Homo sapiens: one gene and its partners. The protein of the gene in region 1 interacts with the protein of each later gene in a pairwise test. Each region holds a gene or a part of one and is shown in the gene's direction. Other genes may lie near its edges. The genes, in order: CTNNBL1, CDCA7L, CREBZF and CATIP.

Evidence for each region.
Region 2: the proteins of CTNNBL1 (region 1) and CDCA7L interact in binary tests that used the Homo sapiens proteins (3 or more experiments, as listed by UniProt).
Region 3: the proteins of CTNNBL1 (region 1) and CREBZF interact in binary tests that used the Homo sapiens proteins (3 or more experiments, as listed by UniProt).
Region 4: the proteins of CTNNBL1 (region 1) and CATIP interact in binary tests that used the Homo sapiens proteins (3 or more experiments, as listed by UniProt).

Annotation. Positions count from the first base shown.
Region 1 is NC_000020.11:37,732,012-37,739,046, forward strand, and holds part of CTNNBL1 (beta-catenin-like protein 1), read left to right. Parts: intron 1-867; coding exon 868-1,056; intron 1,057-5,366; coding exon 5,367-5,473; intron 5,474-7,035. UniProt on the Homo sapiens protein: Component of the PRP19-CDC5L complex that forms an integral part of the spliceosome and is required for activating pre-mRNA splicing.
Region 2 is NC_000007.14:21,907,894-21,914,928, reverse strand, and holds part of CDCA7L (cell division cycle-associated 7-like protein), read left to right. Parts: intron 1-3,174; coding exon 3,175-3,312; intron 3,313-6,421; coding exon 6,422-6,799; intron 6,800-7,035. UniProt on the Homo sapiens protein: Plays a role in transcriptional regulation as a repressor that inhibits monoamine oxidase A (MAOA) activity and gene expression by binding to the promoter.
Region 3 is NC_000011.10:85,657,466-85,661,821, reverse strand, and holds the end of CREBZF (CREB/ATF bZIP transcription factor), read left to right. Parts: 3' UTR 1-3,832; downstream 3,833-4,356.
Region 4 is NC_000002.12:218,359,853-218,366,887, forward strand, and holds part of CATIP (ciliogenesis-associated TTC17-interacting protein), read left to right. Parts: intron 1-720; coding exon 721-807; intron 808-2,882; coding exon 2,883-3,050; intron 3,051-4,775; coding exon 4,776-4,900; intron 4,901-6,812; exon of another isoform or gene 6,813-6,946; intron 6,947-7,035. UniProt on the Homo sapiens protein: Plays a role in primary ciliogenesis by modulating actin polymerization.

The DNA of each region.
Region 1 (7,035 bases):
AATTTGTGTTTCCATCAACAGTGCACAGGGTTCTCTTTTCTCTACACCCTCAACAACACTTTATCTTCTGTCTTTTTCATGATAGCCATTCTGATAGGTGTGACATGATAACTCATTGTGATTTTTCTTTGCATTTCCCTGATGATTAGTGATGGTAAGCATTTTTTTCATATATCTTCTGGCCATTTGTACATCTTCTTTTGAGAAGTGTCTATTTAGGTCCTTTGCCCAGGCTCTGGGCCTTACTCAACTCTTCTGTAAAATAGAATTGGGAGTACAGTAGACATTCAGAAGTTACATATGTAATATTTTATGTTTGTACTATTTGTGAGTAACTGTAAAAAAGGCTTTGTAATCTTACGTAGATGTGAATTAAAACCAGGTGCTAAGACGCTGGCATTGGGAGTTATATCTTGACTAGTATGTGAGCCTAACCCAGTGTCCCCATCTTAAGATAGCTTTGTTGCTATTTCCGTATACATAGGAACTTTTGTGAAATGGCAAAACTGCGTATAAAAAAATTCCCACTGACTTTCATGGTATATTTATAGAATCATTAAGGATCTGAAAAATGACCACATAGAGCTTTACCCCATGTGGTGGGAGAAGTTGTATGCTGGATGCTTTTGAGTCAGAGAATTCTTGAAAGCTTTTAGGATATTTGCTGTCTATGCCTTGCAAAGTCTTTTTTTGTATTTTTTGTAGAGTCAGGGTTTTACCATGTTGCCTCAGGCTGGTCTCAAACTCCTGGGCTCAAGAGATCTGCCTGCCTTGGCCTCCCAAAGTGCTGGGATTATAGGCATGAGCCACCACGCCTGGCTTCTATGTTGTATCCAGCTCTAAAATCTTATGTTTCTTTTCTCTCAGCCCAATAGGGGCACAAAACGTCCCCGGGATGATGAAGAGGAGGAGCAGAAGATGCGTCGGAAACAAACTGGTACTCGAGAACGCGGCCGCTATCGGGAAGAAGAAATGACTGTGGTGGAGGAAGCGGATGATGACAAAAAAAGGCTGCTGCAGATTATTGACAGAGATGGGGAAGAGGAAGAGGAAGAGGTAACGTGGCAGCGCTGGGTGGGAGCTGAGATGGCTGGCCCTGTAAAACGTAATTTTGGGCCAAATACTAAGCTTGTCTGAGCTTCCCATCTTCATCTGTAAAATGGGGTTAAGAATTCATATTTCATCGCGTTAATGTGAAGGTTAAGTGGGCTAGTGCAGTTGGGAAAGCATCTTATGAGATGTAAAGAATGTGACAGAGTTTTAAAATTGTTCCATATTATGTACTGTAGGGGAGGGTCAGGGCAGGCTTCCTGGATCTTACTGAGGACACATAGAAGGCACTTGCATTATTATCTTTGAAAGAGGGGTCAAATTTCACCAAGTGGAAGGAAGGGCTTTTTGGGCAGAGAAAATGGTATTAGCAAAGCAACAAAAGTGGAGAAGTTTAATGGGTTCCACAGTATTAGGTATTTAGGTGTGACTGCAAAAGTACAGCTTAGGGAAGGAGATTCCTCGGGCCTTTCCCTTTGCTGTTCCTCAAGATGCGTTGGGGCCTTTCCACTCATTCCTGCCTCTGGACCTTTGGACTTCTGTGTCCTCTGTTGGAATGCTCGTCTCCCTTAATGCTTTGTATGACTGGTTTCTTCACATTCAGGTCTCAGTTCAGATGTTTCCTCCTCCAAGAAGTCTTTCCTATGTAGCCCTGCAAGCCATTCTCTCATTTCCTCATTACTGTATTTTGTATATTGTCTGCATAGCACGTATCATGATTTGAAATTCTAGTTGTTTATTTTGCTCATTGCTGTCCTCCTCTCAGCCTCCCATGAAAACAGAGACTGGCTCTGTTCTGTTCACAGCTCTATCTTTGGCACCCAGAGCAATACCTAGCTCTTGGTAGGCCCTTAATAAATATTTATTGAATGAATAAATGAATGAAGCTGGGAAGAGTAGAGGTAAAATATCAGTGATTAAAAACAAAATGACCTTACCTCTGTGTCTTTTTAAATCTTTAAGTGTTAACTTGTGTGTTATTTCACTCTGGCATTTTGTTCAATATGAATTATGGAAATAAGAGTCTTAAGAGCCAGCTGTTTTTTGGTTCTCTCAAAGACACGATGCTAAGTTTGGATTACAAAATGAGGTTGGCTGTGAATCTGAGAAGAAGAAAAAATGGATTCATATTCCAAAAAGGTCTTTACTGTGTTGTGACAATAGCTCTGTCTTTATTAGGATTTGTACTAGTGCTAATTTGGGGGTCTCCCGCTAAAAGATGATGGCACTTTAGAAATACGTGGTGGGAGACAGTCCTGAATTTTTTAATTTCCTCTCTGAGGGCAGCAGCCTTGCCAGGGCTTAGACAAACAGTGTGTGTAGCACATCCTCCCTCCCTTCCCTCCTCACCAGCTTCTGCTCAATCTGTTAGCCCTGCAGCAGCAGTTAATTGGCAGGTATAATTCCCATGTAGGGCAAGGCTGGTACTGGAGGATTAGGATAGTAGCTGTCATGGGTAAGTGGTTTCTAGCCTGGGAGACAGAAATGTAATGTGGGACCAACCCGTCTGTTAAGGGACAGGGAAAAAGAGATCGCTTTGTAAAAATGACACATGGAAGGCTACAAGTCCAGGAGTTATTTTCTCACTGCCACTGAAGTCCCATTTGATGAAAAACAAGTGATGTTTGCCCCTGTAAAGTCACGTGAACTTGTAAAATATTATTGTCCTTTTTGTGCTACATCATCAGCATTCATCTTTCTGAAATCTCCCTCTGGTTTCTGACGTTGAGCTATTGGAGATACTGCTGTGGCTGATGACTAAGACTGATAATTCAGTTTTCCCCCAGTGTTGGAGAGAAATTAAAGGAGGGAAGGCCAAACCCCGGAGAGGCTAGGACTTCGGAAATCCCATGAGAGCTGTGTTAACACTAATGTGGTTTTTCTCCAGAGTGGGGCAAGATGTTAGCTAAGAAAAGAAAAAGTAGCAGATATTGAGCTTACTTGAAAGTGATTTAACCCTTTCCTAGAAATGTTTTGATTATTTTAGTTAAATTCTAGTGGTATGTTGGGTACATTGTGCCTGTTGCTGATAATAACCATAACAGCTTGCATTCATGTAGTTTACAAAGTAGTTTTATGTACATCCTTTCTTTAGGTCATCTCTATGACCTTGAGAGATAACAGGTAACAATTTCATTCATCCCCTTCCTTCCCCTCCCCTCCCCTCCTCCCTTCCTCCATTCCTCAGATCTTCACTGAGTACCTGCTGTGTGCCAGACACTGGAGAGTCTACTTATGCCAGAGAACAAGTAGACATGGGCTAGCAATGGGAGTCTTTGCACTGGTTTGGGGTTGGAGAGATTATCTGGGCAGATCCTGCCAGATCCTTACGTAGATCATGTGAGGGATTTGGGATTTTATTCTAAGTGTGTAGTGGATGAGTTCAGGAAAGACTTAGGAGATAGAATTAGCTGGACTTGATGAAGCTTTGAGAAATATATTCAGCAAAGTAACATTGTCCCATGGCTAGTAAGTAGTGAAGCTAGGCTCTGAGTCTTGACTGAGCCAGGACTCTGACTTGTTTTTACTGTGTCAGGGAACCTGTCTTTAAGCTGTAGACCCTGGGGAGGAGGTAGGGGTTCAATAGAGAACCTTGGGATCTAGGAGTCATTGGTATAATCTAATAAATGTGTCATGCTGAAAATGAATTTATGGGTAGCTCCCACTTAAAACCCCATATGTGGAAATAGAAATTTAATAATAGAATAATAGCTAACATTTTTGAGTACTTATAAAATTATGGGATGATTCAGTGCTTTCCAAAAGGATCTATTTCAGGTTCTCTTAATAGCAGTTTCTTTATTGCTTTTAGGTGTGAGTTATGGTCAATGACTACAAAGCTGTGAAGCTTTGAGTTGGGATAGTATGAAGAGAAGCAGGGTGCATTGCAGCACATTAATTTAAACTGGAAGGAAACTGAAGATAAAACGTGTGAAATTTCAGTGTAGATTTTTTGGAGAAAAAATGATTTAGTTTTCAAATATTCATTTTATTTGCTTTCATAGGTATTATTCCAATGTATGAAGCCAGAAAATTCTGTACAGTCTACTAGCTTTTTTTTGCATTCTCTAGGCAAGGTTACTAAATTCTTGATGCTACTTCAGGGTTCAAAGTACCTGTCTGAATTCCTTCTCAGCATCTAGTAAGTACCAGGCAAAGTAATATATAAGAAATGCTAAGCAGTGACTATAGCTAATTAACAACCGTTCTTAGTTTACGCACTGTGGAAAAACAGGCAGTAGGTTGGATTTGGCTCATGGGCTGCAGTTTGCCAACTTCTGCTGTAGGAAAAGATTAAGGGTCACTGTCACTGACTCAGAGTTTGACCTTAAACAATTCTTTTAAACCTGTCAGTCTTATCTTACATGTATAGCAAAGGATGACAAGGTAAATGTATAATAATATTATCTAATATTGTTGCTTACTCTCTGCCATACAGTGTGCTCAAGAAATATTTGTTGAATGAGTGAGTCTTTAACAACTTTTCTTTTTTTTTTGAGACAGAGTCTCCCTCTCTCACCCAGGCCGGAGTGCAGCGGCACAGTCTCGGCTCACTGCAACCTCTGCTTCCCAGGTTCAAGTGATTCTCATGCCTCAACCTCCCGAGTAGCTGGGACTACAGGCATGTGCCTGTATTTTTAGTAGAGATGGGGTTTTGCCATGTTGGCCAGGCTGGTCTTGAACTCCTGACCTCAAGTGATCTGCCCACCTTGGACTCCTGAAGTGCTGAAGTGCCCAGTCTTTAACACCTCAAACCGAATTTTCTGTGTTACAGATAGTGGGCATTGTGTGAGACACCCAATGTGATATACCCGAAAAGAAGCATGTGATTACAGGCCCTTACTCCTCATTGTAATTAGAGAGATAAAGTGTGTACTGTGGCCGGGCACAGTGGCTCACACCTGTAATCCCAGCACTTTGGGAGGCCAAGGTGGGCAGATCACGAGGTCAGGAGATCGAGACCATCCTGGCTAACACGAAGAAACCCTGTCTCTACTAAAAATACAAAAAAATTAGCCGGGCATGGGGGCATGTGCCTGTAGTCCCAGCTACTCGGTAAGCTGAGGCAGGAGAATCGCTTGAACCTGAGAGGCAGAGATTGCAGTGAGCTGAGATCATACCACTGTACTCCAGCCTGGGCGACAGAGCAAGACTCCATCTCAAAAAACAAAACAAAACAAAAAAAGTGTACTGTACATTGAACCCAGAAAGGTCAATGGCAGAGTGAGGTGGGGTATAAGAGCCACAGGAAAGTAGTGACAATGAATGTGAAACCCCTGTGGACTGAAGTTTTTGCATTTGTCTCTTTGTACCAGGAGGAGCCATTGGATGAAAGCTCAGTGAAGAAAATGATCCTCACATTTGAAAAGAGATCATATAAAAACCAAGAATTGCGGATTAAGTTTCCAGACAATCCAGAGAAGTAAGGTTCTGTTCCACTGATACCATGTCTCCTCTGTGGCGTTTCGTTGGCTAATTTTGTTTTGATTTTGGTTTGTTTTGGCTTTTGTGATTTGGGCCAGGAATCCCAGGATGACCCCCATGTTTGGGAATTCACTAGAAGGACTCCCAGGACTCAAAGTCAGTGATACTCAGGGCTGTGGTTTATTACACAGGGCACACAACAGGATCAGCAAGAGAAAAAGACACATCAGGTGGCATCTGGAGAAATTCAGATACAGGCTTCCTATGTTTTCTCCTTCCCAGTGGGTGGGATTATACAAACATGCTTCTTTCTTCAGCAATGAAATGCATCAACATGTGTGCAGTGATGCTGTCCAGGGAAGCCCATTTCAGACTCTGAGTTCAGGGTTTTTATGGAGGACTGGTCATGTAGGCATTCTCTGCCTGTAATAACAATAACAACCAAAATTGTAGGCTCCTGGAAGGAAAGCAGCTGTTCAGTGCCCCGGGCTGACAAAGCAGCAACCTTATCACTTAGGGAACATTTCAAAAGCCAAATTCCTGGCTGCCAGCCTAGGGCCAGCCTTGTAAGCTAGCCCTTTTCAAGATCAGCCCCGCAGTTAACATATTAACTCTCCTGCATTATTCTTTTCAGTGCCCAAAGAAGACTGATCGTGCCTGCCGTTAGTGATAGCTTTACTGTGGAGATCATTTCAGAGGCTCTGAAGTTAGACAGATATTGGTGTGATACACACATCCCTTTGAATAAGTTACTTCCCCTTTCTTAGCCTTGGGTGTCTCATCTGTATAAGGAAATAATGCCTTCCTCACAGGGTTGTATGAAGATTAAAGGAGAATAATGTAAGTGTTTAGCTTAGTACCTGGCACATAGTAGGTGCCCATGAGATGATAGTTAACGTGAGTTTTACTACACTGGCACCTTGGTGCACTATGAAGTGCTATGTGAGGAATCTGGCATCTTTCAGTCAGTCTTGAATCCTAACCAAGGGGACTTTCACATTTATACGATTTTAATGTTCTAAACCTCTCTTTCTTTCCCTATCTTTGTCCCTCCCAGGACATACAATTTTAATGAATCTTAATATGCCCAAGGCCCCCAGGCAATTAACAATTGAGTAGTACAGGCTTTGCACTCAAGTTTTTAGGTTACTAGGGAGACTGACTATAAAGGCAAGGTAGAAGGAAACAGACACTTTAAAAGAGATATAATAGGAGAAGAAACAGTAAATACCAAGTTGGGGGCTATTGAGGGTGTCACAGAAAAGATAGTAGTTGAGCTGGGCCTTGAAGATTCATTTTTATTAGGCGGAAAAGAACACAGGAAGGCATGCCAGGCAATATGAGGAGCATGAACAAAGGCACAGAGGTGTCAGCGGGCACAGAGTCTTCATGGCAACCTAGAGAGGCCAGCGTGGTCAACTATGTTGTCCCTGTGCTGTGGATGAGAAGGCAGAGTGGGGAGAATGTGGTTACTGGGCCTAGGGCCACAGCCCTCTTTGATAGTAGGAGTAGCTATTAATAGATCAGGGCCCAGCTTATCCAGCATTAGAGTCCTATCAG
Region 2 (7,035 bases), on another chromosome or scaffold:
GCAGGCACCGGGCATTAAGAAACAGAACAGCTGCTTCTGCTGCTATGATGACTCCTTTTGTAGTCAGGTGTGTTCTCCCCAGGGAGGACAGTGTGCCAACTGCTTTTCATACAGATACTGCATTTAATCCACAGACCTCCCTGGGAAGCTGCAGTTTTGCAAGTGATGAAACTGACGTTCAGGAAGGTGTAATGACTTGCCCAAGGCCCCACATCTGGGAAGTACCAAGCTGGGATGTTCCAAATCCAGGGCCACCACTTCTCAGCCTCTTACCCCGCCGGGTCTCTTTCCTACCTGCTATGCTGCAGGGCACAGGAACTGAACTGACACTCTCATTATCCACTGTTCTGCCCTTTCTGCCCACTGGTCCATGCTGTTCCTGCCTATCTGTGCTCTCACCATTTTTCTAGCCTCTACCGTGGCTCACATCCAGTTATGCTACTTCTTCCATGAAGTCTTACTGGATTTTCTTTCCCTCCGTGTGCCATATTGCTTTGTATCCCTTAGAGCACTGACCCTCACCAGGGTTATTCGTGGACCTGTCTGCCTCCCTGTTAGATTATAAACTCCTTAAGAAGGGGAGACCTCATACTTGAATGGTGCTTTCTAGCTTCCCTGGCTCTGACTTTTCGTCCTCATGTATTGTTCCTTTCCTCTGATTTCAAGCATCCAACACCCCACCTGACTGTATACAGTGAGCACGGGGGGTGTTGTTTGCTGGGTGCAGTTGAAATGGGGTGCTTGTCTGGCTGTCTGGTTCAACAGGCCATTGCTCTCTGGTCTGTTTCTTCCATGTCACATGGACTTCAAAATAAGTTTATCCACCTATGTTAGCTTCTCCTCTGATGTGTTATTTGCTTATGGTCCTGATCATGGTAGATGACCAAGGCCTATAGCATAGCACCCAGTATTGATTTTGAAGATGAATGAACCAGTGCCAGAGAGCAATCAGCAGTGCCAGGGTTTCTAACTCAGAATGCAGTGGAGCAGTGTGGAGTGGAGATTGGCATCATACAGACCCACATGGAAAACAGTACTTACACACTTTGGAGTAAGGAAACTAAAGCACAGGCCTCAGTTCAGGACAATGGTAAGTTGTTTTTCTCTATCAGGACTGACCATCAAAGATGGTAATCTCTCCCAAGATGCCCATTGCCCTGGGAGGCCAGCACACAGGATCAAAATAGCCAGAAAAACTGGAAGATGGGAACTCATAGCTTCAAGGCTTGCCCTGTTCCCTTCAGGCCCTAGGCAGGGGCTTTAGGTAGTTGATGAAATTTGCACACAGAAATACCACTCTAAATTAGCCTGCAGGGGCTGGCCCAAGGCTCTGTGAGCCAGATGTTTCTTGCACTGAGAGGCCTCAGGTGCATGGTGGGTTTCCTTAGCAGCAGCTGTGTACCATTCTTCCTTAATAATCAAGCCCTGGCTGCTTCTCTACCCCGACCCCACAGGCTCATGATCCATTTTAACCAATAGAGAGAAGCTGCATGAACTTGCACACAGTATGTGTATGCTAACTCTGGTCTCCCTTAAACACGATTTGAATTTCACTTTAAAGAAACTTCCCTTTTGTGTGTGCAATTTTTTTTCTCAAGCAGCTGCACTACAGCTATCAACAAAGGAACAAAGTAATTCAGCTCTGAGCAAACTCACTCCAATTACCCATAATAATTCATAGGAGACATTTTTAAGCTTACAGAATGCTAGATGTAGGCATTTCTTTCTGTGTGCCCCTGTAAGTTTTTCCACTTGTCTATTATATCTATCTTTCCCCAGAGATATATGAGCTCAAAGAAGTATATAATTAAAGGCGGGGAAACGCAGTGGGGTAGATACAGATTCCCCGCCAAGTGTGGTGTTACAAGGGGTCATTGCTATATCAGAGATGGGGGGAAGAGACGTCAGAGGAAACTGGGGACAGACTCTAGTCTTGATGAGGTGTGGCGGGCTTGCAGGGGGCTGGTCTCGTGGGTCTCCCTTTGGCCTGCAGTTTGTTATTTCCTCTTTCTTTCAAGTATACTATTAAGAGAGTTGGGTTTCCATCTTTGCACTATTTCAAAAGAAAAAGTATTAGAAAATGCCTTTTCTTAAAGAGTCACATTGCATCTTTCCTTCTGCTCACTTGCCACCTAGCCATGGTTGTTCACCTCTCACCTCCTGCACGAGAGAAATTCCTGGGGGTGACCTTGAATGAGCTTTCCATCAGGCCCCCATGGTGTCTGCTCATGGAGCAAGTCTAGGCTCTCTGGTGGTGGGCGGTGGGGGCTGAGAGAGGCCCCAGCCTTTTCCTACAGAGAAGCTCGCTGTTGGTGAATGGGAGGCATGCTCACCCACTTGGAGGAGACTCCGGCTTTGAAAGGCTGTTGGAAAGGGAAGCCAACACGTGGGAGGGAGCCAGGTTTTCTCCTCATATCTTCTTTCCATGTGTTTTGGTTCTATGTGAAAGCAGACGTGTCTGGTTGCCAGCTTTGGCAGGAGAAGCTGAATTCCATGAGCACTTACCAGTCACATTAGAAGCTGATTGAGACTACACCCAATTTTTAAAAATTGTCTGTCTTGTAGGTCTGAATTTTGTAAGCTTTAGAAAATGTGTATATATGTAATATATACGTGTACGTATGCGGGTTTTTTTGAGAGAGGGTCTCACTCTGTCACCCGGCTGGAGTGCAATGGTGTGATCTTGGCTGCAACGCAGGCTGGAGTGCATTGGTGTGCAGCTCACTGCAGCCTCGACCTCCCAGGGTTGGGTAATCCTCCCACCTTAGCCTCCCAAGTAGCTGGGACTACAGGTACATGCCACCAGACCCAGCTAATTTTTGTATTTTTTGCAGAGATGAGGTCTCACTATGTTGCTCAGGCTGGTCTTGAACTCCTGAGTTCAAGTGATCTGCCTGCCTCGGTCTCCCAAAGTGCTGGGATTACAGGGTGAGCCACTGTACCCGGCCAGTGTTTTTTTTTTTTTGTGGTAAAATACACATAACATGAAGTATATCATTTCAGCTGTTTTTGATGTGTACAGTTCAGTGCATTAAGTACATTCACATTGTTGTCCATCCATTTTCGTCATCTCCATCAGAAGCTCTGTACCCGTTCAGTAGCTCCTCATTCTACCCTTCCCTGGTAACCTCTATTCTACTTTCCGTCTCTGATGTATGTGTGTCTTTAATTTAGCAGGATGTGCGCTTTCATTCCAAATACTTCACAGAAGAGCTAAGAAGAATTTTTATAGAGGACACTGACTCAGAGACTGAGGATTTTGCAGGATTTACGCAGAGTGATCTGAATGGAAAGACTAACCCAGAAGTAATGGTAATAATTACAACAGGAAGGGATGTGGGTGGTAACGTTTTTAATCCTGTTTCTGAAAGAGTTTTACTTGTAAGCAGTCACTTCACAAGTGAAAAGATTTTTCTTACATATTTATCTTACAAGCAATTAACATAACCTAAAAAAATTGCTCCTGGAAGGCTAATCCCTGGTCCACCAGTCCATTATTCTCTTAGAGAAAATCCATTCATCTTCTCCTCGTGCCTTAGGGGGTTTTTGGGGATGTGTCCCAGGCGTCCTTTATTGTCCTTCTCAAAGAATTTATCTCTCTTGGCCAGGCACGGTGGCTCATACCTGTAATCCCAGCACTTTGGGAGGCCGAGGCGGGTGGACCTGAGGTCAGGAGTTCAAGACCAGCCTCACCGATATGGTGAAACCCCATCTCTCCTCAAAATACAAAAATTAGCCGGGCGTGGTGGCGGGCACCTGTAATCCAAGCTACTCGGGAGGCGGAGGCAGGAGGATTTCTTGAAGCCGGGAGGCAGAGGTTGCAGTGAGCTGAGATTGAGCCACTGCACTCCAGCCTGGGTGACAGAGCGAGACTCCATCTCAAAAAAAAAAAAAAAAAAAAAAAAAAAAAAAAAAAAAAAAATTATCTCAAGAGTTCCTTAAACCTCTTTTATCTAAAAGTTTATCTTAGATGACAACTTTCTTGAGATACTTTCTTACTGTGTGTGAAGTGACAGTTTTTGGTTTGAAGTTAATTTGGCAAAAATTTGGCTGTGGTACAAACTTGGTGTTCCCCATGCATTGTGGATTTGGATTTGTCATGCTTTTTAGTGTTAAAGATGACCCAGGCCTGCCTGGATTCTGGAGGGAAGTCTACTCTCAGCACTTCCTATGAACAGACTTGTTAGTTATTTGTTTGTTTTATCCTGCACAGTTAGGCTAGTTTACTGCCCACTCGTGTTTGAACCTGAAGGTAACTTTAAGGCACAGCCTTCGGATTTAAGTGCAGAAATGTTTTCTGCTAAAAATAGCATACATTTATGCAAAAAATAAACATGCTACTATCTTCTTCAGTATGAAGATGGAACGTAGAGTTTACGCCTCTTCACAGCCAGAAGCTGCTAAAGACTAACTTTTGGCAGAGACTGTGTAGAGGTATAAATAAGCCGTGACTCCTAGCCTGCCATGTCCCTCACTTGTCCTAGGAGAGAATGTAGAGCATAAAAGCCCGCATGGTAGGCTGCTTCGTTTGATAGTGATTTTTTGCTATGAGTAGCAACATAGAGCTGTGCCAGCCTGGAGGCCCCAGGTCTCCTTTGGCTTTCTTTGCAGAAGCTGTTTGTGTGGCAGTTCCATCAGTTCTGGCCAGCAAGTCCCTAGCTTCTTGCCAGCACGATATTAAGATGCTTCTAAAACCCTAATGGGCATCATCAGTTAGCAATGTACTTATTTTCTGTTCTTTAGTGAAGTGATGTCTGGTTATTCGAAGCATTTGCATTTCTAGTGAGAGAAAGTGAATTACCCCAGAAGTCTTCCCTCCCACCTGCCCCCAAGTCTATGGACTGTGTGATGTAGTTACATAGATCATGATATAGCTTACAGTTCAGCACAGGCCCTTGCAAATTTTATTTTAGAATCCAGTGAGAAGAAAAGCATTGTTGCCTCCCAGCCCACCCTCCTGCCCACCCCTGTGGGAACTGGCGAACCTATCTTTCTTGATAATGGGACATTGCTGTAACTTGGTTTCCAGGGGTCTGCTGGCCGGATGCGAAATAACCACATCCATGTACTACACTTGTGCTCTTCTCTTGGGTCTGATTCTGGGCTGCTGTGTACCATTTGTTCTTTCCTTCCTTCAGGCCTCTGTAGTGAGCTGTTCCACATCTGGTAAAGAGAGGCCTGTCGATGATGAGGATGGTAGATAAATGGATCAAAACTGAAGTTCTTCCCTGACAGTGTCCCCTGAAATTGGGTTCCTTTGCAGTACACCATTTTGAATTCTGAAGCTATTAATATGGGAAGTTCAGGGTATTAAAAAATAGATAAATCAGTGCCATATAGTCTTACTCCTCACTTGGCTTGGTGTGGATATACCAGGGTTGGCAGTTATCTGCGTTTTTTTTCTCCCTGTGTCTTATTTCTAACTTTAGTCCAACGAGAGTTTGGGGTTGATGGTCGTCACCGGGGAGGAAGCAGAGTCCCTGAACTGATCCTGGGTCCGTATCGGTGCCATTCCGTGTTCTTGGTAGATTTTCAGAATTCCCAGATAATGGTTCCCAAAGTTTTCTAGCTTCTGGTCATGGAAGGATGCCCAGAAGACGTCCTAGATCTTACATACTTAAACCTGTCTCTGTACCACTGCTAAGAGTCCCGTCACATCCAAGCTGTCACCTAGGTGATGTATCCCTGTTACTGCCTTCCATATTTACTGTGTTCTCACTTGTAAAACAGAGCAATGTTTGAATGCTGGAGACCTCTGCCATGTGGAATTTGAAAATGTCGGGTGAGGATTTCTTGAGTTGACTGAGTGGTGTTTTGCTACAACCTGTAGAGCTTTGTGACCTGGTTTCACCTCATGGCTCTGAGGGTTCCAGAGAAGGGAAAGGTGCCCCTTGACTGAGGACGCAGTGGCAGGTCATCTGCCTGTCCTGGGTCACTGCCCTGAGGTGCAGTCAGCTCTCCCGCCCTGTTATTCAGGAGTCTGGTTCCTGCTATTTAGAGGAGACCAGTCAGCATTTTTCCCCCGTTGCGTCCTTTCCTGTCTGAAGATCACATCTGTCATGCTGCTGTCTCTCCTTTTCTGTGACTGTCTCTCCTCTTGCTGGTGCTCCCTGGTTGTCCCACGGTGGAGGAACCCACCCTGTCAGTGTTTTGCTTACAGCCCTCATGCTCTGAATGGAACCCATTTCTGTCGCGGGTATGATGGTGCACAGTTCAGTAGTAGGTTGCCTGCTCTCTGATTTTATTCATCAACCAATTTCTTGCACATTTAAAGGAAATTCAGAGGGAACTCATAATATGAAGGGGAAGCTTTTCATTTTTCATGTTTTTTCTCATAATGCTGTCAGTTGTTTTAAATGCATGTCTTTTTTGTGGGTCTGTAACAGTGTCTTTGTGCTTTTTCTTGCTCTTATTTTATTAGGTCGTGGAGTCAGATTTGAGTGATGATGGCAAAGCATCTTTGGTGAGCGAGGAAGAGGAAGATGAAGAAGAAGATAAGGCTACCCCTAGAAGAAGCAGGTCTAGAAGAAGTAGTATTGGTCTTCGAGTAGCCTTTCAGTTCCCCACCAAGAAGCTGGCCAACAAACCAGATAAAAACAGTTCTTCCGAGCAGTTGTTTTCTAGCGCACGCTTACAGAATGAGAAAAAAACAATTCTTGAAAGAAAGAAAGACTGTAGACAGGTGATACAAAGGGAAGATTCTACCTCTGAGTCTGAGGATGACTCTCGGGATGAGAGCCAGGAGAGTTCAGATGCTTTGCTGAAAAGGACCATGAACATCAAGGAGAACAAAGCCATGGTGAGGCTTCACGGAGGGCGTCCTGGGAGTTGGCACCAGGCTCTGGCAGCAGTTGCTGGGCTCCCAGAACCACTTTGCTCCTACAGCTGCTGCTGTTGCTTTGGCTTCTGTCAAGAAAATATACTCTGGGTATTGTGTATCCTTTTACTTTTCCAGAACCCAGAGCAACTATTACATGATCAGCTCTGGTTTGGGAACAGAAAGAGATTCCCCAGCACCATTTTTAGCCCCTACAT
Region 3 (4,356 bases), on another chromosome or scaffold:
GTATATAATTTTGTGCAGTACCAATGACAAAAATATGGTGTCATAATAAAACCAGGTTTGTTGATCTTTTAGTTATGGGCTCAAAGAATTTATTCATCTCTAACATGATATTGGAAAATAATGGATGAAAATAGGAAAAATGATTGTTAATGCTGACTGTGGGTCTTAAAAGGTTCTGGAAAGCAGTAAGTTCATTTTTCTAAAAACTATAACATTCTGTTGGAGTATTTTCTTCCTTACGTCAATACTTTTCCTGCATTATTTGAAATTGTGGGCTGGGGAGAAACAGTAGTCAAAGCTTTCTGAATTGAGATACTTTGAAATTCCAAGTGTAGATTTTTAGAATGTCATTTTATAAATGGCAGTTTTTGGAATTACTTGATAAGAACTTTTGAAAATGGAAGGATTAGTATGGCCTATTTTTAAAGCTGCTTTGTTAGGTTCCTTATGTTTTATTAACTGTCTTTTCTCAGTTTCCATTTCATTTTTTTTTTTCTAGTTTTGGTGACTTAGTGATTTTGTCATTTTTTACATCAACTTCATGGTCTTGTTTTTACATGGTAATTGCATGTACTTAGGATCTATCTAATAGGGGCTTTAAATAAATTTGGTCATATTTATGTGTAAGCACATTTTACTGTAAATGTTTGGGTTTCTGAATTTAAACAGATCTGTTTATTTCAGTATGTAGTAAACAATATCTTAAAGTGTCCGATTCACTACTTGTTAATTAAAAAAGTTATGATTAATGTGAAACTGTTGTCTTACTATTTTTAGAAAATTGTGTTCTGGATGATTAGCACATGGATAAAGGAGATTTCTGGAATATAAAATGGATTGTTTTTGAAATTTCTAGGTTTGGCTCTATTTACTGTAATGGTTGAAAACAATTTAGTATTTGGGTGACCCTTTTGTTTTTCTTCTAAATGTGCCTCTGGTAAAATACAGAACTAGACTAAAGATGTAGCTTTTTAATATTTGTCTTTTGATGGTGGCAGGAGTTCATACATTAATTGAACTAACACATCATATTTTGACCTACTATTTCTATCATATTGACTTACTGTTTCTGCACTTCTTTGACCAGACTTATCTTAAAAAGTCCACTTTTGTTAAAATGTAGTCACACCTCTGATATAATCCAACAAGAAGTGTTCAAAATATTTTAAATATTTGTGCATTTTATAATCACTAAATTAATCTCTCTCTCTTCTCTTTGAACAGCTTAGCAGTGTCTGCAAAAACGAATCTTTTCCTACAACCTGTTAACTGACTGGACTGTTGGTAACAAAGTAATTGTGAGAACCATGTCGGTCAAAAATTTGGCATCTGCTGAAAAAAATGAATGCCATTTTCAAGTTCCCAAATTACTTCTATACTGATTTCACTTTCCAGAAATGGAGATATGAAAAGATTCTCTGGAATCCTTGAAAGACTTAATAGAGATACATGAGACTAAGTTAATCTTGGAACAAAATTATACTTTTTTTGTCTTTCATGGGAGTGATACTCAGTTATTGCATATCTTTACAAAATTGTAACCTTTGGAGAATTACAGTATTTCATCAAGAAATTAGAGTTTTTACATAATCAAGAGCATATTCTATGGAATTAACATTTAGTGGACTAGAATTACATAAGCAGGCCATCAGTGATCACAAGGCATATGAGTTTGTATTTATTTCCTGGAACATGAGAGCTAATTTGGAGTACAGACAGACACCCTGCTGAGTAGAATATAAAAGTTAATGTAAAGTTCTGAACTATAAAGAGTAGTCCTTTTAAATAGATGCATTGATTTGTATATCTTTGAAAAAGTTGATTATGATTAAATGTGTGGGTAGTTAATTACAATTTAGGGTAACAACCAGGATGTATGGATTCTTGAGGTTTTGGCTTCTTGAGCTTTCTCTTGAGTACTTGATACTGTTTTCTGAATATTTTGAGGTTTCTAATTAATGGTATGCTAGTTTCTACTGTTTTATATAAAAATTTATCTAGTGTTGTATAAGGACTTTAGTATTGTGGATGATGGGAGTGGCTTTTTGTGGCATATGGTTGTTTTAATTGAAATATTTTTTCAGTTTATTACAAGTGTGAAAAAACACTCAAAACTCTGGATTGTTTTATTTCATTTTTGTTGGATTATGTTAATACATTCCTTCACGTGGTTTAGATTGAGTCATTTTATCTCACTTACTTGGAAATGTGCAGCTGATAGAAGAGGGATTGGGTAGGAGATTGGCTTTTACTTCATAATAAATATACAGTTGGTTATTGTATTATTCAAAACTTATTAAATCCATTCAGTTTCTTACCATTTTAAGTGTATTCAGTGCCTGTGAAGCCAGGCAGCAGAGTATTCCCACTGGCTTAAAACTTAGGCGCTGATGCTCCTACAGTACAGCTAGTTATAATTCCAGAACCAAAGGCACCAACATTATTTGGTGACCTTAACTACTACTTTGATAGAACAGACTGGGTAATTCACTGATAATGAGTCATTACCTTTTTAATATGTGATTATCTAGTTCAGCATTTTGAATGTGTAGTTTAAGGTCTGATTTAGTAAAATTTTAAAGCTAAATAATCTGATGACTCTTGAAAGTTTAATTGGTAGTATGACATTTATGTTTTTTTCCCCCAGACTCACAGCCAATACAAAGTTTTGAGACTCCTAAATGTTAATATTTTTGCTGTTTTTCTGAGCTGTTTTTTTATTTACTTACCACCTAAGCTGCGGATCAAAAAGGGAATTCTTCCATTAGAAATTTGTAGTGTTGTGTGGCCAGCACAGTATTTTTCAGATTTGAATTTCAGTACCTCTGTGTAGCCTCAGTACTCTCAACACCAGTCACTCTTTATTGTCTTAAAATATTCCATACTTTTTGTTGACCCAAAATTGTTGAAAATATTTTGCTCAGTTTTCACAATGAACTAATTGAAAAGTGTAGTTACTGTGTTGTAAACATTTGTGTAGTTCTGTTAATACACTGATTTGAATTTTATTTATCTCAACTTCCTTTAGCGTCTGCCTCCAAATTTTGTCTTTGCTGTATACCCACTGAGATCAATTCCCTAGACCCCTCTGGCTCTTAGTGTACTATAATTTGGGCTTTATAAAATATATTGTCTTAATTTAAATAGAATGTGAGCCCTCTTTTTTTTTTTTTAAGCCAAATAACTACACAAAGTAAATTATAAAAGATTTAAATAGTTTGTCTACAGTGACTAGACTGAAATATAAAAATTGATTGAGGGTAGTTTACTTCAGGTGTTAGCTACAAATGACTAAATGTCCTTAAATAATGCAGATATCTGCCCTCTGAACAAAAATTTTGGCAAAGTAAATTTGTAGCAACAGACTTAACATGATTTATTGCTTATGTTGCCCATTTCTGCTAATGGAAAAGATAATTTAAAAATATGTGGCAGAGGACAGATATTAGAAATACTTTTTGGTTACAGAAACCATTGTAAACTCATCCTCATTTATAAATGGTATTATGCTAGGGAGTAATTGGACTAGGAATGTTTAAAGATAAGTAAGGAAACAATGTGTGCTCAATCGTCAAAGAACTTAGTTATATCATTGGGCTTTGAATTATCTAAGTTGATTACATAATTCTATATTCTTAAGGAGTCTTAACTCGGTACTTGGGTTAACGCCAGAAATTACTTTTAATTCATTGTTTTTTTCACTGGGATGAGTAGAACTCTGCTTTTAGTAAAAGTGACAGAATATAGGTAAAATGGATGATTTGGGATCAGAGCTTTTCATCTTGATATTTTAGCCTGTAAAATAAACAGCTATATTGTTTTGCCCTTTAAATGTTATATATATTTTTCTGTCTTTCTTTCCCTAGTTGTAAAAGTAAAGCATATTCTTTATAGAAAACTTGGAATATCCTGAAAGGAATCAAGAAGAAAAGAAAAATCACCCTTATAACTCTATAAGCCATAGAATATCCACAGTAAACATTTTGGCATGCTTCCTTTCAGTCTCTTGTGCACATAGATTCTTTTGCCTCATAACTGGGATCATTTTTTATATAAGTTTGGTAGATAATATATTTTATGTGCCTGTTGAAAGAACAAATCATCTTTGCTTTCTGAAAAATTGAGATTGTATTTTATTAATTTCACATGAGTTTTTCATCTTTGGCAGCACAGCTTTATGTTTTTCTTTAAACAGAAGCTAAAGGCCAGTTTCACTCACAAAGATGCCTTTTCTAAATTATAATTTTAAGTAGCATAAGATGACTTAACAGATATGTCACTATTTGGAAGTAATAATTAAGAGATTCATGAATAATCTTGGATGCCACTTAAAATTTTGTTTGGTACTTTTCTGTG
Region 4 (7,035 bases), on another chromosome or scaffold:
CTTGCTCTTATCACCCAGGCTGGAATGCAGTGGTGCAATCTAGCTCACTGCAACCTTCACCTTCCGGGTTCAAGCAATTCTCCTGTCTCAGCCTCCCAAGTAGCTGGGAATTACAGACATGCACCACCACACCTGGTTAATTTTTGTATCTTTAATAGAGATGGGGTTTTGCCATGTTGGCCAGGCTGGTCTTGAACTCCTGACCTCAAGTGATCTGCCCGCCTGGGCCTCCCAAAGTGCTGGGATTACAGGCATGAGCCACAACACCTGGCCCTGCTGCTTGGTTTTTTGTTTGTTTGTTTGTTTGTTTTTGAGATGGAGTCTCAAAAACAGCCTGTTGCCCAGGCTGGAGTGTAGTGGTGCGATCTCGGCTCACTGCAACCTCCGCCTCCGGGTTCAAGCAATTCTTCTGCCTCAGCCTCCCAAGTAGCTGAGACTACAGGCATGTGCCACCACACCCAGCTAATTTTTGTATTTTTAGTAGAGACGGGGTTTCACCGTGTTAGCCAGGGTGGTCTCAATCTCCTGACCTCGTGATCCGCCCACCTCGGCCTCCCACAGTGCTAGGATTACAGGCGTGAGCCACTGTGCCCGGCCCGGCTGCTTTTTTTTTAAGTCACAATCTTTAAACCTCAGTTTTCTCATTAATGGAGAAGGGTCAGGTGACCTCTGGGGGACCCAGGGAGTCCCTGATCCTCCCCCGCATGCTCTGGCCCTCAGTTCCTCATCCTCCCCATGGAACGGAAGATGAGTTTGCTGAAGCAGGATGATCAGCTGGCTGTGACCAGAAGTATCAAGGAGGGTGAGGTAAGGATGAGAGCCAGATGGGAGTTGCACTACACACTGTGAACCCAGAATATCTGAGACAGGTCCAGATCAATTTAGAGAGTTTATTTTGCCAAGGTTAAGGACGCGCACATGACACAGCCTCAGGAGGTCCTGAGGAAATGGGCCCAAAGTGGTTGGGGCACAGCTTGTTTTTTTTTTTTTTTTTTGAGACAGAGTTTCACATTTGTTGCAGAGGCTGGAGTGCAATGACGTGATCTCGGCTCACTGCAACCGCCACCTCCCGGGTTCAAGTGATTCTCCTGCCTCAGCCTCCCGAGTAGCTGGGATTATGGGCATGCACCACCACGCCCGGCTAATTCTGTATTTTTAGTAGAGAGGGAGTTTCATCCCTGTTGGCCAGGCTGGTCTCAAACTCCCGACCTCAGGTGATCCGCCCGCCTCAGCCTCCCAAAGTGCTGGGATTACAGGCGTGAGCCACCACGCCCAGCCTACAGCTTGGTTTTATACATTTTAAGGAGACACGAAACATCAATCAACACGTGTAAGATGTACACTGGTTCACCAGACGTAAAAATACAAAAAATTAGCCAGGCGTGGTGGCAGGCGCCTGTAGTCCCAGCTACTCGGGAGGGTGAGGCAGGAGAACGGCGTGAACCCGGGAAGTGGAGCTTGCACTAAGCTGAGATCACGCCACTGCACTCCAGCCTGGGCGACAGAGCAAGACTCCGTCTCAAAAAAAAAAAAAGATGTACATTGGTTCATTGGAAAAGGCAGGACAACTCGAGGCAGGGAGGGGGCTTCCAAGTCATAGGTAGATAAGAGACATGCTTTTAAGTTTCCGATTAGCCTTTCACTGAATACACAATTTACATGCTATGGGGGTTAGAAAAGTAGTCACTTATGCCTTACTCTGGCTTAGTGAAACAATAGAGCAGAGAAAGCCATCAGATATGCATTTATCTCACGTGAGCAGAGGGATGACTTTGAGTTCTGTCTGTCCTTTGTCCACAAGGAATTTCCTTGTGGGCAAATAGTGAGGGAGTTATATAGCTTTTTTTTCTCTTAGTAGCTACCTTGTTTAGGAATAAAATGGGAGGCAGCTTTGCCTGAGGCAGTTCCCAGCTTGACTTCCCTTTGGCTTAGTGATTTGGGGTCCCAAGATTTATTTTTCTTTCACAATGTCCTCTTCAGAACTCTGAGCGGGGACCAGATTAGATGAAGCCAGGAGTCCAGACTAACGATTCATTCATTAGGCTGGGCGCGGTGGCTCACGCCTGTAATCCCAGCTCTCAGAAGCAAGAGGCAGGAGGATAGCTTGAGCCTAGGAGTTCGAGACTTGCCTGGGCAATATAGCGAGACCCCGTTCTCCAGAAAAAGGAAAAAAAAAAAAGACAAGGATTCATTCATTAAAAACCATATGACCGGCTGAAGGCCAGGCGTGTGGTGACTCACGCCTGTAATTTCAGCACTTTGGGAGGCCAAGGCGGGCGGATCACTTGAGGTCAGGAGTGGAGACCAGCCTGGCCAATATGGTGAAATCCCCTCTAATAAAAATACAAAAATTAGCTGGGCGTAGTGTCGTGAGCCTGTAATCCCAGCTACTCAGGAGGCTGAGGCAGGAAAGTCGCTTGAACCTGGGAGCTGGAGGTTGCAGTGAGCTGAGATCGCACCACTGCACTCCAGTCTGGGCAACAGAGCAAGACCCTGTCTCAAAAAAAAAAAAAAAAAAGGCTCACGCCTGTAATCCCAACACTTTGGGAGGCAGAGGGGGCCTATCACCTCAGGTCAGGAGTTCAAGACTAGCCTGGCCAACATGGTGAAATCCGGTCTCTACTAAAATTACAAAATTTAGCCAGGCATGGTAGCCTGTAATCCCTGCTACTTGAAAGGCTGAGGCAGGAGATCGCTTGAACCAAGGAGGCGGAGGTTGCAGTGAGCTGAGACCACGCCATTGCACTCCAGCCTGGGTGACAAAAAGCGAAACTCTGTCTCAAAAAAAAACAAAACCGTATGCCCAACACCTGGCTTGCCCACCCTCCTGTCCCCTGCCCCTTCCTGGTTCCAGGACCCTGACCCAGATCAGTTCTGAACAGGAAGTGAAGACTGGAGTGACTTCTTTCCCCTGGAGCTCAATCAAGGGCTTCATCTCAGAGGCTGCCAACCTGGTGCTGCTCAGGGTGATGGCCTGGCGGCGGATGGTGCCCAGCAATGCCCGCTTCCTGACCTTGGACACCGAGGGCAAACTCTGCTATTTGACCTATGTAAGGGGTCCCCTTGGGCAGGGGACTTGGCTTGGGAGCGAACTAGAAAAGGCGTGAAAAGCACTGAGATGGGGAACAGCTGTGGAGTAGAAAAGGGAGGCAGGTGGGGAGAAAACAGCACAGGTGGGAATGGGGCTTTCAAGGGCAGGAAAGCATGTTTGTCTGGGAGTGTGGGGCAGATGAATTGAGAGTGACTGAGAAGTGGGAACAGTTCAGAGAAGCAACCCTTCCGCACAGAAGTCAGTCCAGGAAAAATAAATATAGTGCAGGGCTGATTTAAAAAATACATCATTTTGGGCCAGGTGTGGTGGCTCACGCCTGTAATCCCAGCACTTTGGGAGGCCAAGGCGGGCCGATCACAAGGTCAGGAGATCTAGACCATCCTGGCTAACATGGTGAAACCCCGCCTCTACTAAAAATACAAAAAAAAAAAATCAGCGGGGCGTGGTGGCAGGCGCCTGTAGTCCCAGCTACTCAGGACGCTGAGGCAGGAGAATGGCGTGAACCCGGGAGGCAGAGCTTGCAGTGAGCCGAGATCGCGCCACTGCACTCCCGCCTGGGTGACAGAGCGAGACTCTGTCTCAAAAAAAAAAAACAAAAAAAAAAAAACGTCATTTTGGCCAGGCGCAGTGATTCATGCCTGTAATCCCAGCACTTTGGGAGGCCAAGGTGGGCAGATCACTTGAAGTTAGGAGGTCAAGATCAGCCTGGCCAACATGGTGAAACCCTGTCTCTACTACAAATACAAAAATTATTAGCTGCGTGTGGTGGCAAGTGCCTGTAATCCCAGCTACTCGGGAGGCTGAGGCAGGAGAAGCATCACTTGAACCCAGGAGGCGGAGGTTGCAGTGAGCTGAGATCGCACAACTGCACTCCAGCCTGGGCAACAGAGGGAGACTCTGTCTCAAAAAAATAAATAAATAAAAATAAATCATTTTTTAACTTTAGGAAGTGTAACATGTCCAACTTTACTGAAATATTCCTTTATTATTTCTTAACCCCAAAGGGTGTTCCGTTTTTGTTTTGTTTTTTGTTTTTAACTAAAATTTCATAATCAGCATGCCTAGGACTTCCTGCAATCAGTGATTTTAAAGCCATGCCACTGAACACACAATTTCCAGTGAGACACTTTGGGGGCTGATTTGTGTTTCTTTGACCATCTTTGTAAATTACATTCCAGGCTTGTCTATCAAAACACACCAAGCAGCAATGCATTTGACATGAACAAGCACAATCCATTCCCCTCCGTGTTCTTTGAAACATGTGTTTAACATTAGCACTTTTTTCTCCATAGCTGCAGCTACAACAGGGGTTTAAGTTTTAATCACAACAGGGACAGCCTGCCAGCAACAGCACAGGTCTGAGGTGGCCACAAATCTGTCTGGTCTCACACCTCTGAGCCTCACTTTACCTCCACCCACTGGCCCTAGTAGCTCATCCTACCTCTCCGCTCCCACACCCCCCCGCATACCGCTTCTCATCCCTGTAACAGAATTTGCCAACTAGAAGCACCTGGTCAGCGAGATGACATGGGAGGGGTCAGGGCAAGGGCAACCTGGAGCTAGCTCCCTATGAGGGGTCGCCAACTCAGCTTGGAGGTTTGGAGATGCAATATTAAATGTCTTGAGGTTGTTATGAGATGGAGAAAAGGCTAAGGTAAGATGATGGGGAGCCCTTGGCGGGCATCCACCTTACCTCCCACCCCCCAATTTTGGCTGTTGCCAGCAAAACCTGGGCTTCCAGACCATCCAGGTAGACCATCAGCAGGCTGAAGTCTTCATCGTGGAGCAGACTGTCCACGCGGAGGAGGGCATCCCCATGTCCTGCCAGTACTACCTGCTCTCCGATGGGTGAGCTGCTGATGGTGGGCCCAGAGGGGTGGTGCTGAGCTTGTAGGTGCTCAAGGAGACCGGCTGCTTCTGGGGATAGCACCAGGAAGAACTGGCATTGAGATAGGAGTGTCCCTCCGCTTTATCCATATCATTCACTCTTTCTTCATTTATTTGCTCGTCCTCTTAACCCTCACAGTGCCTCCCAAACCTTCTCACTGCACACCACAGGCCTGGGGTGTAGCTAGTGCAGCCACCACTGTGTAAGGGATAATACTGAAAAACACCAAGGTCTGAATGACTGCACACTTGATGAAATCACTGTGCTGGAAGAATTGCCTGTGGCAGGCTGCCGTGCAGTCTCCAGCAAAGCACTGGCTCCAAATCATAAGAAAATTCAGGGCTGGGCGTGGTGGCTCACACCTGTAATCCCAGCACTTTGGGAGGCTGAGGCGGGCGGATCATGAGGTCAGGAAATTGAGACCATCCTGGCTGACACGGTGAAACCCCATCTCTACTAAAAATACAAAAAATTAGCCAAGTGTGGTCGTGGGCGCCTGTAGTCCCAGCTACTCTGGAGGCTGAGGCAGGAGGATGGCGTGAACCCAGGAGGCAGAGCTTGCAGTGAGCCGAGATCGCGCCACTGCACTCCAGCCTGGGTGACAGCAAGACTCCGTCTCAAAAAAAAAAAAGAAAGAAAAAGAAAATTCAGGTGGAAGAAAGAGTTTCTTTCTGTTTTTTTGTTTTGTTTTGTTTTTTTGAGACAGACTCCAGTCGAGTTTATTTCTTAAAATTTCAGAATAGATATTCACATAATCACTACACTGGGGAAAAGGTAATCAAAACATTGTTGGCTTTATCTCATAACTTAGTATGTTTTCGGTTTTGGTGCGATCATAGCCCACTGCAGCCTCCAACTCCTGGGCTCAAGCAATCCACCTGCTTCAGCCTTCCTAGTAGCTGGGACTACAGGTATGCACCACAGCTCCAGGCCAACCTTTTTATTTTGAATGCCGCATAGCAGGAGATTCCATAATTTTTCTTTTCTTTCTTTCTCCTTCCTTCCTTCCTCTTTCTCTCTTTCTCTCTCTCTGTCTCTTTCTTGACAGAGTCTCGCTCTGTCACCTAGACTGGAATGTGTGGCATAATCTTGGCTAACTGCAACCTCCGCCTCCCAGGTTCAAGTGATTCCCTTGCTTCAGCCTCCCAAGTAGCCGGGACTACAGGTGCCTGCCACCACGCCTGGCTAATTTTTGTATTTTTAGTAGAAACAGGCTTTCACCATGTTGGCCAGGCTGGTCTCAAACACCTGACCTGAAGTGATCTGCCCATCTTGGCCTCCTAAAGTGCTGGGATAACAGGCGTGAGCCACTACAAGTGTGAGCCACTGCGACAGGCCTCTTTCTCTTTTTGAGACAGTCTCGCTCTGTTACCCAGACTGGAGTACAGGGATGCAATCTTGGCTCACTACAACCTCCACCTCCCAGGTTCAAGTGATTCTCATGCCACAGCCACCAAAATAGCTGGGATTACAGGCGCCCACCACCACGTCTGGCTAGTTTTTTGTATTTTTAGTAGAGACGGCGTTTCACTATGTTGGCCAGGCTGGTCTCAAACTCCTGACCTCAAGTGATCCACCCATCTCAGCCTCCCAAAGTGCTAGGATTACAGGCGTGAGCCACCGTGCCTGGCCAAGAGGCTCCATGATTTTCGAGTGCTGTACCTCTAAAGATCCTTTTTGTTTTTTTTAAACAGGGGGCCTAATACTTGCCAAGCCCTGTGCGTTATTTGGAGATCCAGAAATGAACACCACCCAGGAACTTAATAAACAAGAGAGGGAGGCAGAAGTAAAGAGGCCCGGGACAGGTCTCTCAAGGGGCACTGTCATGTAGGAGTCTGCTTAGGCTGCCATAACAAAACACCACAGGCTGGGTGGCTTCAAGAGAAATATATTTGCTGGAAGGCAGGAAGTCCAAGATCATGGTGCCATCAGGGTTGGTTTCTGGTGAGGGCTGTCTTCCTAGCTTGCAGACAAGTGCCTTCTCAATGTGTCCTCACATGGCCTTTCTTCCGTGCATGAGTGAAGAGAAAGCTCTCTGGCATCACCCTTTTCTCATAAGGGCACTAATCCTATCTGATTCGGGCCCCACCCTTAT